Linked DNA regions of Homo sapiens. The protein of the gene in region 1 purifies or fractionates together with the protein of each later gene. This does not show direct contact. Each region holds a gene or a part of one and is shown on either strand. Other genes may lie near its edges.

The links.
Region 2: the proteins of ERICH6 (region 1) and GLCCI1 purify together in Homo sapiens (affinity purification with mass spectrometry; one large-scale study listed by BioGRID and IntAct). This does not show direct contact.

The regions. Positions count from the first base shown.
Region 1 is NC_000003.12:150,697,421-150,700,920, reverse strand, and holds part of ERICH6 (glutamate-rich protein 6), read left to right. Parts: intron 1-2,038; coding exon 2,039-2,130; intron 2,131-3,500.
Region 2 is NC_000007.14:7,971,796-7,975,295, forward strand, and holds part of GLCCI1 (glucocorticoid-induced transcript 1 protein), read left to right. Parts: intron 1-3,500.

The DNA.
Region 1 (3,500 bases):
CTATGTCTATAAAACTTGTCTCTTAAAAAGTAAAGTTTTTGCCAGATGCAGTGGCTCACACCTGTAATCCCAGCACTTTGGGAGGCTGAGGTGGGCAGATCACGAGGTCAGGAGTTCAAGACCAGCCTGGCCAACATAGTGAAGCCCTGTCTCTACTAAAAATACAAAAATTAGCCGGGCATGGTGGCGTGTGCCTGTATTCCCAGCTACTTGGGAGGCTGAGGCAGGAGAATCGCTTGAACCCAGGAGGTGGAGGTTGCAGTGAGCCGAGATCATACCACTGCACTCCAGCTTGGGCAATAGAGTGAGACTTCATCTCAAAAAATAAATAAAAAATAATAATAATAAAATAAACTTTTTGACTCTCTGTTGTTCTGTCTACAGTTTTTCTGGGTTGGCTCACCAGCCACACTTTATTGGTTCCCATATTGTCTTCTTTCTTTTGTTGCTTTTCCTTTTGCTGGAGAAACTCCTCAGGTGAATTTTTTATATAGGTCTCACGGATAGTCAAATTTCTGAGTTCTTGCCTGCTTTGAAATTTCTTCATTTTGCCCTTGTACTTGACTTGTTAATAAAAAAATAAATAAAAACCTGCCAAAAAGAAGAGATTTAAAACCATTTCACATGGTGAAACCTCGTCTCTACTAAAAATACAAAAAAAAAAAAAAAAAAAAAAAAATTAGCCGGGCATGGTGGCGGACGCCTATAGTCCCAGCTACTCTGGAGGCTGAGGCAGGAGAATGGTGTGAACCTTGGAGGAAGTGCTTGCAGTGAGCCAAGATCGCACCACTGCACTCCAGCCTGGGCAACAGAGCGGGACTCCATCTCAAAAAAAAAAATTTCCCTCAGAGATCTGAAGACATTGCTTCTTTGCCTCCTAGTAGCCAATACTGCCTCACCAGTCTTATCCTCAGACCATTCTGATATATAATTACTTCCTCCCCTTTTCTTCTTTTCTTCAGAACTCCTCCTAGATGCTGTTGGACCTCTTAGGTAGATTCTCCATCTTTAATAACATTTCCTTTGTATTTTCAGTATCTTCAGGATTTTTGATGTTTGTTTACATGCTACTATACAGCCCTTGTACAGAATTTTTTTATTGGAGGATTCATATTTGAAATTTCGAAGAACCAGTGCTTGTTCTCTGATTGTTGCTGTTCAAAATTATTTGGTTTGTTTTTTGTGTTTTTTTTTTTTGTTTTTATCTCTTTGAGGGCTTTGTTCTAATATATTAAAGTTCTCCTTTGTTCTTCGTATTATTTTTCCTTTCAAAGTCAATTGTTCTGTTTATTTCTCTTGCTTTTTCTCTTCAATGCTATTGATTTTTCTTAAGTGGTAATCCTTCGTTGCCCATTTTTATTTATAAATGAATGGCTGATAAATAGCTAGAAAGGAATCCTTCCCTAGCTTTAGTAGTTCTGTTTTCTGACAGAGCTTGCATAGGAGAGTCTGCTATGATCCCTGTGCAGATGGGTGGGGCATGTTAGAGTCATTTCCTGTGGAGTGTCTAGGCAGGGAGGAGTGAAGCTGGGAAATCCTACTATTACTAGAGTTAGGGCAAGGACACTTCAGTGTATGGTCATGGTTTATTTGTTTGTTTGTTTGTTTTTGAGATAGAGCCTTGCTCTGTCTCCCAAGCTGGAGTGCAGTGGCACAATCACGGCTCACTGCAGCCTCCACTTCCTGGGCTCAAGCCATCCTCCTGCTTCAGCCTCCCAAGTAGCTGGGGCTACAGGCATGGAACAGAACATCTGGCTAATTTTTTTATGTTTTATAGAGATAGGGTCTCACCATGCTGCCTAGGCTGGTCTTGAACTCCTGGGCTCAAGGTATCCTCCCAGCTTATCCCCCCAAAAAAAGATTTGATGCAAACACACTGAGTTAACTTTACTGAAAAGATAAAAATGGAAGAAAATATTTCAAAGAAAACAAAATATTTTCTACGTGCATTAATTAATTGATTATTAAATGTTCGATGTTTAGAAGACCTGCTAACAACTATATAGGTATACTCAAAACATTTTTGTCGAAATTTCAGAAATATTCATCGCAATTTGTCTCCAGGAATTCCAGTATCAGTACAAACAGAAGAAAGTTGGCTCCAAGATTTGTCTGATAAAGTGCAATCGAGTGAGTAGTTTGATTTCTTAGCTTTTCCTGGGAGGAGGGATTGCATGTTGGAAATATCACAGGTGTAGAAGGCCAGTACAGCTAGATTTGAATCCCAGCCCCAACACATACTAACCTTGTGATGTTGGGCAAGTTGCTTACCCTCTTTGAGTCTTACTTTCTTCATCTCTTGGAAATAGTCATATTGTCACAGGATTCTTATGAAGATCAAAATAAGATTAAATATTTTCAGTATTCAATAAATGGTAGCAATTATGTTCACATCAAGAAATAATCTGCCATTATATTTTTGATACATATCTTTATTTTTTTATTATACAAGTAACATATGCACACTTTTTAAATGTCAAACCACTAAGAAGTGGATAATGTAATAATTAAAACTTTAACTTTTCCAGTATATTTCCCTTCAGCTTTTATATTCACATTTTATTTTATGTCATTTATTCATCGACTGCTTACTGAGCACCTACCATTTGCCAAGCACCTAACATTTGCCAAACACCTATCATAGGTCTAGCCTATAATAGGGTATCAGCAGTGAAAAAAACAAGCAAATCCCCTGTCTCAGTGATATTAAAGTGTGGGAAGTGAAGGTGATGGCAACAATATAGAGAATAAATCAGTTAATATATAAAACATTAGATGATGTAAGTGCTAAGAAGAAAAGTAAAGCAGGGAAGGGGTTGGAAAGTGTCGGGGGTTGGAGGTAGGGTGCAAGTTTACACAGGGTGCCCAGAGAAATCTTTCCTGAGAATCTGAGGTATTTGAGAAAAGACCTACAGGAGGTGAGAGAATGAGCCAGGACAATCTCACAGGAAAGGTGTTCCAGGCAAGGGAACAGCAAGTGCCTCCTTCTAGAACAAGAGGCCAGTGTGGCTGCAGTGGAGTAAGCAGGGAGGAGAATCTTAGGGGATGAGATCACAGAGATCTGAGGACCAGATCTTTCTCACTGGGAGTGAGGTGGGAAGTTGCTGGAGAATTTGTGCAGAGAAGTGATATAATCCAACTGGTATTTTTAATGACTGCTGGCTGCTGAGAAAATATGAGGGCAAGAGCCCAGAGATTGAGCCCTGCAGAACTCCATTGTTAAGTTGGGGACATGAGGAAGAAACTAAGGAAAAGCATCCAGTGATGTAGAAGAAAAACCAGGAAGTGTCCTAGATACCAATAAAGTTTCAAGGAGGCAGGAATGATCAACAGGCTCAAATGATACTCAGAGGTTAGGAAGATGAGGACTGAGAACTGACTACTAGATCTAGCATGTGGAAGTCATTGGTGATGTGGATAGGACCAGCTTCAGTGTAACTCTGGGGATAAAAGCCATATTGGAGTGGGCTCAAAGGAGAGTGAAATAAGTGTAGAATAGA
Region 2 (3,500 bases), on another chromosome or scaffold:
ATCATGATGAAAACACTTTTCTGAGTCTGGTTGTGCAGCAGACAGATTTGCAGTGTCAGAGAGCTTGTGTTGGGAATGCAAGGGCTTTCTTTGCTAAAGATGTTTTTCTGCTGTTTTAAACACCAGGTGGTTTTGTCAGTTTCTTACATTGCAGTGATTTTTGAATGCGGGCTTCTGTGCCCCCAGTTCCGTGATTATATTACTCCTATGTTACTTCTCCATGTCCCGCCTTTTACCCCCACTACCCAAATTAAAACTGTCCTACTAAACTGTTCTGTTTCCTTAGCCATTTAAAATCCATGATCTGAACAGTTGATTTAATTTTTCGAATGATTATCTTCTCAATTTCTTTTGAATGCTGTAAGGTTCTGACTTGAGTGGATTTTAGCCTCCACTGGTCAAGGTTCCTGCCGCTGCCACTGCTGCTGCAGACACTGACATCACTATACTGCATGAATGAAAAACAACAACGTGCTCCATTTCTTCCTCTGCTCTCCACCTCCTCCTTTTTCTGCACACTTCAGTGTATGTGTGTGTGTGTGTGTGTGCGCGCAAGAGGGTGTTAAAACTGCGTTTGAAACTACACTTGAAAGCATTAAGTAGTTGATGGCTCAAGGGGTAGGTATATAGTATAAAGGCATATTGTTTATGAAAAGCTGCAAGGGCTATGGGCATTTCGACTAAAGGTGACATAACTGAGCATTCAGTGTTTCATGCATTTCATCTGGAGTGATGATTATAGGAGAAAATATGGAAGCTTAAAAATGTTTTTATGATTCTTTTACCAAAAAATTATGAAACCACTCAATTTCTAAATAAATTATATCATTATCTGCGTCTTAAGCATTCTTAATGTGAATATTTGTAGGGCTAAGGCTAGAGTAATAGAGAATTGATATTCAGATTGTTTCACAAGGCTGAGGAAAAGCTGAATTCTATAAATAGGAATAGTCAATTTTAATATTATTATAATATTAATTTATACAACCCAGGAAAAAATGATAATTTCCTTTATTTTTGTAGTATAGTTTTAAATAATTTAAATGGTTACCATAATAGAAATACGTAAATTGCCAAATACCTTGCTGTATATATAGCAGACATGGAGTTTTACAAATTGAAACTGTTTTGTTTGTGCTCATGCATCATCCTCTTTTTGCTTGTTTTTTTTCTTTTGTATTTTTAAAACTTCAAGGTTTGTTATTTACATTCATTCCTGTACTTCTGCCATTAGTAAAATGTCATCCTCCCTCTTGTTTGGTTCTGAAGGGTATTGCAGTGGTGAATGACAGGCTGCTGAATGAATCCTCAGGCTCCCTGTGATGTGTTTGTAATAGACGTAAAATCATAAAGTATTATGCAAATAGTTATTTTTTTGTAATGGTAATACATAAAGTCTACCTTTGAGATAAATAGAGCAACTCAAATGAGAAAAAGCAGGATGTTAGTGTTAAAATTAATGATCTTTAAGCTAAAATCATTAGTAACAACCAAAAGAAAATATAGTAAAGTTGCTTCTTTTTGAAACCTCACAGACCAGAACCCATGGATTTAAACATAGAACAAATACAGTTTTACTGTCCAAGATAGTAAGTAGGAAATGCAAATCTTTGTGTGCGTGTGTGTGTGTGTGTGTGTGTGTGTGTTTTGTAAAGATAGATCATTAGGATTAATTATAAGTTCTAAAAGATGTAAAAACAGTCATATTTAGAATACTCTGGATGGAGAATACAGCTTATTTTTAAGTGTACCAAATCTGATAACAAAAACATGGAAGAGCTTGTAATTTATATAGCTCCTGTTTTGAAAAATAGCATATGTTAGTTCCTGATTTAACATATCAGGTTTATTTAGGCCTAATACTCTACCAGATTGCTAACTCTAGAGTGAAATTTGATTAGACTTTTTCATGAGTATCTTGAGAGCCTCATTGTTTTATACATAAAGAAGTTATGATTCTATTCTAAAAGATAATGCAAATATAATGTTAACTCCATGTAATATATGTTTGCCTGTGTTCATTCATTTGCTTTCAGTTTTTCTCTTTTCCTTAAATTTATCTTTTTAAGTCATTTTTATACTGTGCTCAATGGAATACAAAAAATTTTAATAACTTTTTCTCTTTTAAAAGAGATACTCAGATATTCTCTTTCTATAAAGTTTTATTCTCAGGCTATTCTTGAAAATTAAGATCCTCCCTTTCCATTTTAAAATTAATTAATTTTCCTTGAGTGCTTATAGATACTTGTTTCAAAGCTTTCTTCTACATTAATGTTTTAGCTTTTTCTAAAGAGACAGGTTTCACATACTGACTTTTGGGAAAGGTTTTCATTCTCAGAAAACTATGCTAGAGAGCAGCAGTGTTCATTATTTACAGAACTATTTTTTTCCATCAGTTATCTCATGGTGCCTAAAATTTCTAGATCAATCAGTGAATAGCAAAATAGATAAATGAATTTATAGTTATTTAATCAAAATCTATTGTCTTATGTTCAAAGATTATATTCCTCTCAAATAACTGTTATTGTAAGCGTATTGAATATTGAATACCTAGCATGTGTAAATCATCTTAATCAGTTTTTAACTGTATGTAAAGTTCTGTGTGTATATATCGAACTGGAAATCATTTTATTAATTACAGTACTTTTTACAGAAGGACTGCCGTGTACGTTTCTGTAAGGACTTAATGCAAATTAGGATTTGTACTTTGGGGAAATGTTGAAGGATAATGGCGTCCTTGTGATTTTTGTTTTACTTGTGATAAGTCAGACTACATGTGAATAAGAAAATAAGGGAGTAACTGGGCTCCACAGCAGTGAGTGGAATGGAAATAAATGACAGTGTTCAACAAATGGCTAGTCGGAGAGGGTTTTCCTTAGTCTGAAATTTTAAAAAATTCTAAAAGTCTGTTTTATTAAAATGTTCACAGGTAGTTAATAATCTGCCAAAGAGTATAGTCTAATGACTTAGTTCTTCTTAATTTTAGTTTGGTCTTTTCTCCAGAACTTAACATTTCCAGACACCACTAAGATAGACTTTCTGGCAGCCCCTGTCCTAGTCTGTGTCTGGCACTGCTTTTTGTCTTCAGTATATAATTTATTCTTTTATTAAGTGTCTAAGAAGCTAAATCACTGACACTCTTTTTGTGCTACATACTGTTTAATTATTTTAACGAGAGGTTGAAAATATCTAACTTCTGGTTTCTGCCAAAAGTAAGTGGAGGAAAGGGAACACAAGTACTCATATATTGATATAGAAAGCCTAGGGAACTGATGGAAGGCAGATACTACCTGTATTTCCCTCTGCTCTTCATTTGGACCCTTGAAAGTGACCATAAGTTGACTCATCATTTGGCTATTCTGGAAGAATTTTTGTGCTTATTCTGAAAGACAAATTATAATGGATTAGCAGTAATTCTGAAAAATCTAAGGATTTTACTTACGAACAAATTGTGGAAAAGTATTTCATTGTAGCATGAACAAACATGGCAGATACCTTTA